2 separate regions of the Homo sapiens genome follow, and region 1 is linked to region 2. Evidence: fine-mapped expression QTL. A gene starts in region 2. The other region holds a variant in brackets. All regions are shown on one strand. Distances are between the middles of the regions. Region 1 has its middle 340 kb from the start of CNTN5. Region 2 holds the start of LINC02713 (long intergenic non-protein coding RNA 2713).

Region 1 (5,395 bases), 720 kb before region 2:
GATATTTAGTTCTGTGATGCATTTCTAAGACAAATCACTAAAATCTCAAAAGGCAACCTTTCAAAGGAGTTGTGCTCTCCCAAATGTTGATTGTGTTTCCTTTTGTACCTAGAAGATAATCCTTTAATTGCATACAGTCATTTATTTCCATTAGAGGCAACATAGAGTGCCTTAAAGGTTTTCCACCTTGTTCTTGATACTTGCCCTCTGTTCTCTTATATTTTCTCTTCCTCATATCTTCTATTAGTAAGGAAAAAGCCTATTTATCTATTTGTAAAAATTGTTGAAATAACTAATGCAAGTGAGGTTATATATGGATGTTGATTTTCCCAACTCTTATTAACAATCTAACCATTGTGCAAGAAGTTCTAATGAAATATTTTGCTGTGAAATTTTACTTTTCTTCGCCTTTTGGTGACCTCACTTGGATAATTACAGCATATGGTCCCAGTGAGTATGAAACGTGAATATAAAATGTAACTGTTTTAAAACATGCCAAAAGCTAGTATAACAATAATCCTTCCTAGTGTTTTCTAATGAACAAAATGATAATTTACCAGATGTTTTAGATTTACAATAATTAGAATCATAAAATCTTTCCAATAGTATTGAGCCAAAATGTAAAACATTGTATATTATATACTTCAGCTGTGATTTTCTAGCCCAAATTAATTTATCAGGCTCTTCGTTAAAAATGTACAAAGTTATATCATTGATTTTAATTCTGAACTGTAGTTTAAAAAATTATGTTTATTATCTATTGCAATCACTCTGTTATAACCATAAGAGCTTTCAGAAGTCAAATTGTGGAAGAGTTTATCATTTTAGGAGAAAATAGCTATCCTTAGTGAATTATACAATAGTTTGAAGATCCATATTCTTAGAAGTTCATGTGAAAGGCAGTCAGAATGTTAAATATATTATTCGCACATGTTTAACATGAGTTTAACAGAAGCAACTTTTTCAATAACAATATAATACTGAGTTAGTATAATCGACTTATACATCTTACGTATATTTGAAAATGTAACATATTTTAAAATAAAATCTCTAGGGCGTTTCCAGTGAGGATTACTAGTTAACAGGGAGAAACAATCTTGTACTATGTCTAAGTCACTGTTACATTATTTGTTAAAAGCTCATTGACCATCTCAAAACTATTTCTATATCTACTTCTTTCTGAAGTGAATAATGGTCGTCTTGAGAATTATTACTAATTATTGGGGCAAATTAATGATAGTATCTAAAATATGTATTTTGCTTCTGCTGTACACAGAGTGACTATTTAAGATAATTATATCTTGTTTATGTATACAGAAGCAAGTTAAAAACCAAAGGCATTTTCTGACAATATGTCCAACTACATGCAGCCAGAAAGCATCACTGCCACCAAAAAAGACCAAATTATTGAGTAAATCAACCCTATCTGGGCAGATCTTCAGAGAGAAAACCGAGAGTGAAAGGGGAGGTGGCACTGACACCACAGCGAAAGAGTGAGGACGCTGGGAACCCTGCATGAAATATCCGAATGCCAAGGCTAGTTCCTGGTCCTGAATGGCTCCTGGGGAAGAGATGTGTGAGGGAACTGAGGAACAGCTTACTCTTGCCATGGGCCTCTGGGATCCTATAGCTGCAGGTTATACCACATCCCACCTCATGGACCTGTGAGCCAGCAGGAGCATCTGCCCGGGGAGTAGGCAAAAACGACTTTGGCCAGCAGAGTCCAGGAGCTTTTGTGCACAGGGTGGCTCTGGCAGAGCATGGCCACAAGTGTCCACTCCCCAGGTCTTCCCAACTTCCTCGGATAGGCTGTAGCCCCACTTGACCGCTGGGCCAGGAGAAAGTGAGGCTAGACCTGGGGTGCAGTGGCTCATGCCTGTAATGCCAGCACTTTGGAAGGCCAAGGCGAGCAGGTTACTTGAGGTCAGGAGTCCGAGACCAGCCTGGCCAACATGGTGAAACCCCGTCTCTACTACAAATACAAAAACTAGCAGAGCATGGTGGTGCCACCGGGGCCCCTCTGTAATCCCAGCTACTCGGGAGGCTGAGGCAGGAGAAACGCTTGAACC[C/T]GAGAGGTTGCGGTGAGCCAAGATCGCGCCACTGCACTCTAGCCTGGGCAACAGAGCAAGACTCCATCTCAAACAAAAAACAAAACAAACAAACAAAAAAGGTGCTGCTGGCTTCTCTGTGGGACTGGGGCATGTCTGTTCTGTAGGCCCTCCTGCCCATCACCCTTTGCAGGGTCCCTGCCTAGCTGCCGCACAGTGCACCCTCCGCTGATCTCCCTGGGTGCTTTACTCTACCTAAGTACTTTCCCAGCAACCTATAAGCACTTTGGATCCCCCATGAACAGCCTGGCCCTGAGGCAGACCATCTGGTTGCCCCAGGGCTGCAGCATGCAGCTTGAGAGTGCTGAGCTGAGAGCTGTGGTAGGCATTTGAGTGGGACTGGATCCCCTACTCTTGGATCATGGAGAAGGACAAGATGCACAGCAGGTTCAGGGACCAGCGGGAGCAGGGATGATCCAGAAAGGATGTAGTGTGTCCTATCTCCCTGCTATAGCTTCTGTCTGAGAAAGCCCCGTGGCCCAGAACATCTAACAAACAAATTCAGGTGCAGCACCAGTGATCAAAGGGGGCTCCGTCAAGGCCCAGGGGCAGACCTGAAGAAGGGGGTCTCTCTCTCCCCACCCCACACTGCAGAGCATGCCTGCAAGTGAAAAGAAACACAAAATAGCCAAGCAACTGAGTAAGTGCATGTCCATCAGCAATTATTCTTAATCACCATCTACTAAATCACATCCCAAACTAAAACACCAAAAAAAGGCATTCTGTTAATATACATACCTGGGAAACCAGGAGCAAGGATTGACCGGGAAATAAAGATCTTCTACAGGGCTTTGGCCATCTTAAAGTATCTGGAAATGAACCCAACTGACTACACAGAACTTATACCACAGTCAAAGGAATACCAGCACCTGCCAAATGAGAAATGATCATCACAAGAAAAGCTAGAATGTCCCCTTACTTCCAAAGAAGCCCACTACCCCCCTCCCCCACCCCCAAAATTGTACTTAACCAGACTGAAATGGTTGAAATGACCCACAGAATTTAGAATCTGGATGAAAAAGGAGCTCACTGAGATGCAGAGAAGGTTGAAACCCAATCCAAGGAATCCAAGGAATCCAGTAATACGATCCAAGAGGCAAAGGACAAAATAGCCATTTTGAGAACCAAACTGAGCTTCTGGAACCAATAATTTCACTACAGGAATCTCACATTACAACTAGAAGTATTAACAGCAGAATAGACTAAGTTGAGAAAAGAAACTCAGAGCTCAAAGAAAAGTTATTTGAATCAACTCAGGCAAAAATAAAGAGAAAATAATGTAATAAATTGAACAAAACTTCTCATAAATATGGGATTATGTAAAAAAAATGAAATTTAAAACTCACTGGCACTCCTGAGAGAGAAGGAGACAGAGTAAGCAATGTGGCAAATATATTTGAGGATAAAGCCCACACAAAATTTCCCTAATTTCACTAGAGAGGTTGACATGCAAATTTAAGAAATACAGAGAACCCTGGCTAGATACTATATAAGACAACCAATTTCAAATCACATGGTGATCAGATTCACCAAGGTTAATGTGAAAAAAAAAAAAATTTAAGGCAACTAGAGAAAAAGATCAGTACACCTACAAAGGAAAACCCCATCAGGCTAGCAGCAGACTTCTTAACAGAAAATTTACAAGCCAGAAGTGATTGGGGACCTAATTCCTGCATCCTTAAATAAAAGAAATTTTAACCAAGAATTTCATATCCTGCCAAATTAAGCTTCATAAGCAAAGGAGAAATAAAATTATTCTCAGACAAGCAAATGCAGGAAATTTGATAACTCTAGACCAGCCTGGAGCCGGGCGTGGTAGCTCATGCCTGTAATTCCACTTTGGGAGGCCGAGGTGGGCAGATCACGAGGTCAGCAGATCGAGACCATCCTGGCTAACACGGTGAAACCCCGTCTCTAATTAAAAAAAACACAAAAAATTAGCCAGGCGTGGTGGCGGGTGCCTGTAGTCCCAGCTACTCGGGAGGCTGAGGCAGGAGAATGGCGTGAATCCAGGAGGTGGAGCTTGCAGTGAGCCAAGATCATGCCACTGCACTCCAGCCTGGGCAAGAGAGAGAGACTCTGTCACAGAAAATAAATAAATAAATAAATAAATAAATAAATAAATAAATAAATAAACCAGACTTATGAGAGGTTCATAAGGAAGTGCTAAACATGGAATCAAAAGAATGACACCTGCTACCACAAAAACACATTTAAGCACATAGTCCACAGACACTTTAAAATAACTACACAATCCATTCTACGTAACCACCAGGTAACAACACAATTACGGAATCCAAATCTCACATATCAAGGCTAACACTGAATGTAAATAAGCTCAACACACCAACTGAAAGACATGGAATGGCAAGCTGGATAAAAAGACAAGAGCCAATCATCTGCTATCATTAGCAGACCCATCTCATGTAATAACACCCAGAGGTTCAAAGTAAAGGGACGGAGAAAGATAAATGATACAAATGGAAAACAAAAAAGAGCAGGAGTCACTATTCTTATGTAAGCTAAAACATACTTTAAACCAACTACTATTAAGAAGGGCAAAGAAGGGCATTGCATAATGTTAAAGGGTGCAATTCAACAGGAAGAGTTAATTATCCTAAATATATATGCACCCAACACTGGACCACCCATATTTATAAAACAAGTTCTTCCTGACCTACAAAAATACTTAGACAGTCACACAATGAAAATGGGAGACTTCAACACCCCACTAAGAGAATTAGATAGGTCATCTAACAAAGCAATTCTTGATTTAAACTTGACACTTGATCAATTGACCTAATAGACATCAACAGAATACTCCACCCAGCAACCACAGAATATATATTACTCTCACCTGTACAAGGAACATACTTCAAGATTGACCACTTGCTCAACTATAAAGCATGTCTCAGTAAATTTTAAAAAAAAATTATACCAAACACATTCTCAGAGCACAGTACAATAAAAATATAAATCAATATCAAGAAGCTCTCTTAAAACTATACATATACATTTAAACTAAACAACTTGCTGCTGATTAACTTCTGGGTAAACATCAAAATTAAGTTAGAAATAAAAAAATTCTTTGAAATTGATGAAAATAGGGAAACAATTTGCCCAAATATCTGGGATACAGCTAAAGCAGTATTAAGAGGAATGTTTATGGTACTAACCACCTTCATCAAAAAGTTAGAAAGGTCTTGAATTAAAATCTAGCTTTGCATCTGGAAGAACTAGAATAAAAAGAACAAACCAACTCCTAGATGTAGCAGAATAAAAGAAAT
Region 2 (5,395 bases):
AGTCTAATTGTGGGTTTACTTTGCATTCATAAATTACTAATTATGCTTATCTTTTTTAACATTTGGCTATACATATGTGTGTGTGTCCTCTTTTCTGATACAATCTTTATGTGTTCCTACTTTTCTATCTTCCTCATTCCCTTTTTCCCTTCCTCCATCCTTTTCTCCTTTCTTTTTTCTTCCTTTTATTATTTCTTTCCTGCAAATGTCCCTGTTATCTATTTCTAATATATTTTAACTCAAAAATATTATAAATGTATTGCCTTTAGCAGTTATGTGTATTGAAAATACCTTTCCCACTATATAGCTCATTTTTCACTTCTTAAAAATATTGCTGAAATTCATACTCTTAATGTGGTCAAGTTTACCTACTTTTTTTTTTAACAAATAGAGGGAGTTTTATTGATTATATGAGCTGTGCAGAATTGCTGTGTGTGTGTGTGTCTGTGTGTCTGTGTGTGTGTATCTATGTGTTACTAGTGTGAAGTAGTGGTCCTTGATTTCCGACCTTTCCTAACTGCTCTGCAGTTCTTTCTTTTTCATATATCAACATTTTATATGTACATGATACTGGCTTTTTAGTTTGCTTTATTATTCTTGTGCAAGGAACATCTTAATTGTTCTTGACCCTTCTTAATAGGTCAGATAGCAAAGATTTTACACTGTGGGCCATACAGTCTTTGTTGCAACCTGGTGTAGTATAGAAGCAGCCACAGACAAGACATAAATGAATGGACATGGCTATGTTCCAATAAAGCTTTACTTTTAAAAAAGGGGTGCCTTGCCTGTGAGCCAAATGTTGCCAACTCTCAGTTTTGTCTAACCTTAAAGTAGTATAACCCTATACTACTTTAATGGTATCTAATTGTGGGTTTACTTTGATTTATTACATACCTTAAGTAGTAACTTTATTTATTACTAAAGTTACTACTTTAGGTATGTAATACCTATACTAGGTATGTAATTACCTAATATTTAAAGTAGTAACGTTAGGTATGTAATAAATATTTCCATCTGGTAAAGTTTTCTTAATATATGTTCTTTCAGAACATCTGGGCTAGACTAAAAACATTGTATTCCTATAAAAATTATAAAATCAGCATATCAAGTCTCTTCATCCACCCTCCAAAACCCTATAGAGATTTCACAGAGATTGCAATGTACCTGTATTTTCATTTTTTGTAAATTGACATCTTGAGTTTTTAAATTCATGAACATGGTATATTTCCCCATTTATGTTGGTTTTCTGGAGTATCTTTAAGTAGTTATATAGTTTTCTTCTTCTATGCCTTGCGCATATTTTCTTAGATTTATTCAGAGGCACAAAATATTTTGATGCTATTTTAAGTAGTTTTGTTTTTAATTTCCAACTATTACTACTATATGTAAATAATAACTCATATCTAATAGAGATCTAAAATCCTGCAACATAGCTAAATTTTGACATGAATCTAATATTTTATTTGTAAATACTCGGGATTTTTAAACGTAAGTATATAATTTGTGAAATTTGCATATTATAACTGAAAGTTTTATTCCTTCTAATATCTGTGATATTGTATGGATTTTGTCCCCTTCAACTCTCATGTTGAGATGTGATTCCCAAAGTTGGAAGTGGGTCTGGTGGGAGGTGATTGGATTACAGGGGTGGATGCCTCGTGGTTTAGCACCATGCTCTTGATGATAAGTGAGTTCTCACTGAGTTCATGCAAGATCTGGTTGTTTAAAAGTATGGGACCTCCCCTTGCCTTGTTCCTTCTTTCACCGTGTGGGACACCTGCTCTCCCTTCACTTTCCACCATGATTATAAGATTCCTGAGGCCCTCACCAGAAATAGATGCCAGTGCCATACTTTCTGTACATCATACAGACCAGTGAGTTAATTAAAACTTTTTCTTTATAAATTATCCAGTCTCAGGTATTCCTTTATAGTAATGCAAACAGATAAACACAATCTGTAAGAATTATCATTCTTTATTTCCTTGGATAAGACCTCTAATACAATATTGAATAGAAGTGATAATATGACACACATCTTTTTTTCAGTCTTAAAGAAAAAGCTGGCCAGGCACAGTGGTTCATGCCTGAAATCCCAGCGGCTCGTGCCTGTAATCCCAGCACTTTCAGTGGCTAAGGTGGGAGGACTGCTTGAGCCTAGGAGTTTGTGACCAGCTTGGACAACATAGTGGAGCCCCATCTGTACAAAAATTTAAAAATTAGCTGAGTGTTGTGGTTCACACTTGTAGTCCCAAGTACTCTGGAGACTGAGGTGGGAGGATCTATTGAGCCTGGAATGTTGAGGCTGTAGTGAGCCATGATTGTCCCACTGCATTCCATCCTGGGCAACAGAGCAAGAGTCTGTCAAAATAAAAAAGAAGAAAAAAAGAAGAAAGATTTTAATTATTTTTATCAACAATTATACATTTTCAGTAGGTATATTATTATACAATTTAATTCAGGAAGTCTTCTTTTATTCCAAGTTTGTTAACAGTTTTTATAACAAATACAGGTTGAATTTTGTAAATGACTTATTTTGTATCTACTAAGATGATCATTTTATTTCTTCTGTACTCTGTTAATATGGCAAAGAATTTATAATGATATTTTAATATTAAATTAAATTTCCAGAGGCTTATGGTTTCTGCTAAAGATGTAAATAGCTAGAATGCTATTCACTCCCAATCTTAGCAAAAACAAATCACATTGAATGTATCATGAGATTATCCTATAGCTTCCATAGGCCAGCTTTCAGGATTACTGCTGCTTCTTTGAAATTCATCCGTGTTTTCTTTGCTTGTTTATCCTCTGGGCTCTTTTACTATTTTCAAATTTTCATTGGTTTTCTCCAGCTTAATTGGGACATGGATTTCTTTCTATATATTCTGCTTTGAGTTCATTGTTTTTCTTAAACCTTAGGAAGCACTTCGTTTATTTTAGAAATACATTGTTATTATATCATTTTATATGGCTTCTATCCATTTTTCTTTATTTGTCATCTGGATTTCTAATTATGTATATGTTTGACTGTCCAGTCTTCCTTAAACTTTTTAACCTCTCTTCCTCACATCTCCCCATGGTTTTAGTTTTTTATTCCATTATTTATTCTGAATACTTTTGTTTCATGTATTCTCATTTTATTGAGTAATTTGTGGATACGTTATATTTCTATTTAATTTTTTCTCTATGTTTGTTCAATAATTTTAAATATATCAAGTACATGGATTTGTAACTATTTTATGATCCTGCCATTTTATCTTAAATGATTAGTTTACCTTATAAATGCATCATTAATCATTTTCTTTGATTTATAATTTGAATTATAAAATTTCTATTCATTTTTGGTATATTGGTGTTATATACAGCAACAACATTTTGCACTCTATATCATCTCTGGAAAAAAACTAGACATGTCTTCTTTCCTAATGTTTATAAATTTTCATTCTTTTTTAAAATCATTGGTCTAAATCTTTAGGACAATTCTTATGAGAAGCACTAAATGTGATCACCTTTGTTTTACTATTTATTTTTATTTATTTATTTTATATATATTTTTTCATCTTTATCCATATATTTGTTCTTAGTTAAATTAGTAGATATTATGCTGACTATGAGCATCTGGTTAATGTTCTTTATCTAATTATGAAAGTTATTCTATATTTCTAATCGAAGAGTATAATTTTTATAAGTGGAGAGTTAAACTTTTTTGAATATATTTTTGTCCTTTTAATGAAATTATCATGTTTTTCCTTTAATTCGTTGAAGTGATAGAATATAGTAAATAAAGTGGAATTAAGAAATACATTATTTGAAATGCAGATGCCAATGATCTAAAAGTCCAGGTAATTGAGTAGATCATCAATATAAATTTTGATTTTGTTAAGAATAATGATAATAATAGTGACATAAGGGAAGGATGGTAAACTAGGTGAAAGAATGAGGAGAATTTAAGAATGAGAAGGAATGAGAAATGTTAATAGATGCCAGTATCAAAGAGAGCTTATAGATAATGAAGTCTAACGGCACCAACTTGAAGAAATCCTTGGTGTTTGAGAGATAACAAGTAGTCTAGGAGCTGAAATGAGATACATAAATATGCTATCTTTATGCCTTGCAATACATAGATTATTGGAAGGAAATAAACAACAACTACAGCTCCCACTTTAAAGGCTCCTTTGGCTATCACATCTTCAACAACATACGAGTCAAAACAGGAGACTTCAGAGAATAGTTTGAAGTAGAATAGGGGAGTAGGGTTACTGATGAAAGAAGGTGTTACAAAGGGACCTAGTGAAAATGTTTGAGAGATAAGGAAAGAATGAAAGATTAGGTCGCTTTAAGAAATGAACAGAATTTTATGAGGATGAGTTCTAGTGGTGAGAGATTTCTTGGAGACTTAGACTCTTTTGATAGCGACAGGAGGCACAGAGGAATAATAATTAATGAGGAGACTTTTAAAATATTTCATAGGAAAGATAACACATCAGTTCAAATTAGAATCTCCCTAGTATGCTCCTTTTTTGTTAATATAAGTGTTAATTAAAAGTTTAAGTCACAAAAACATTGAATTTACTTATAAAATAATTTAATATATGTAATCTAATACAGCAGAATTACTAAATGTCAGTCTTCAATCTACTGTTTTATATTTAAACATGCAAATTTATATAATTTAATGATTTATTTTGCTTTATTTTACTCACCATTTCAGCTACAAAAATTTACAGTTTAAGATTATGTAGCGATACACTGAGAGATTTTCAACTTATCCGAGACAACATGATGATTGGAAAGGATGTTTATTTTAAAATCAAATAGGCTGAGATTGTACTTCAGGTTCTTCTACTTAATCATGATGATTTGATCTTTTCAGAATTACTGAATCTAGTTTTTTTAAGAATAAAATTAGAACAATATAATTTTTAGGATTAAATGAGTTATGTAGAATCCCTGGTCATATTTGTTGCTCAGAATGCTAGTCCCTGTGAATTGCCTGAAAATTAAATGAGGTGACACCTGATCAGGGTAGTATGAAGAGAACCATTTGACCTTAAAATTGTTTAAAGAAAGAACCAGGCTATACTATTGAATTCAATCTTCTCTTCATTCTGGTTAAAATATAGAGATATGTACATATTTAGAAAACACTATATTTTCCCACTTCTATTAACTATGAAACATCCCAGCTAAAGCAAAGATTAAAGGAAAACAAAGGCAATGAATAGGAAAAAAATAGTATACTCCCTGCAATAATTGACGAATTCAACTTATTCCAAAAACGATCTGATTCACTTTTATGGGAAGATTCCAAAGTAAGCATGCTTGGGTTAGAAGCTGATCTATAAGCAGATTTACCTGCCTTAGTTGAAAAACAAAGCTAGGGGAGGGAAGAATATTG

What was found. PIP is the estimated chance that this variant, and not a neighbour inherited with it, causes the effect. A credible set is the group of variants that fine-mapping cannot tell apart.
Region 1: its variant is the best candidate, but not a certain one, in a credible set for the expression of LINC02713 in testis (GTEx, PIP 0.81).

Annotation. Positions count from the first base shown.
Region 1 is chr11:98,677,654-98,683,048 of GRCh38, reverse strand. No RefSeq gene overlaps it. Among named protein-coding and RNA genes, the nearest start is that of CNTN5, 340 kb to the left of the region's middle. The variant C/T (reference allele first, on the strand shown) is at 2,070.
Region 2 is chr11:97,954,005-97,959,399 of GRCh38, reverse strand. It overlaps LINC02713 (long intergenic non-protein coding RNA 2713), which reads left to right and starts at 2,317. Exons shown (of 6, transcript NR_183633.1): 1 at 2,317-2,429.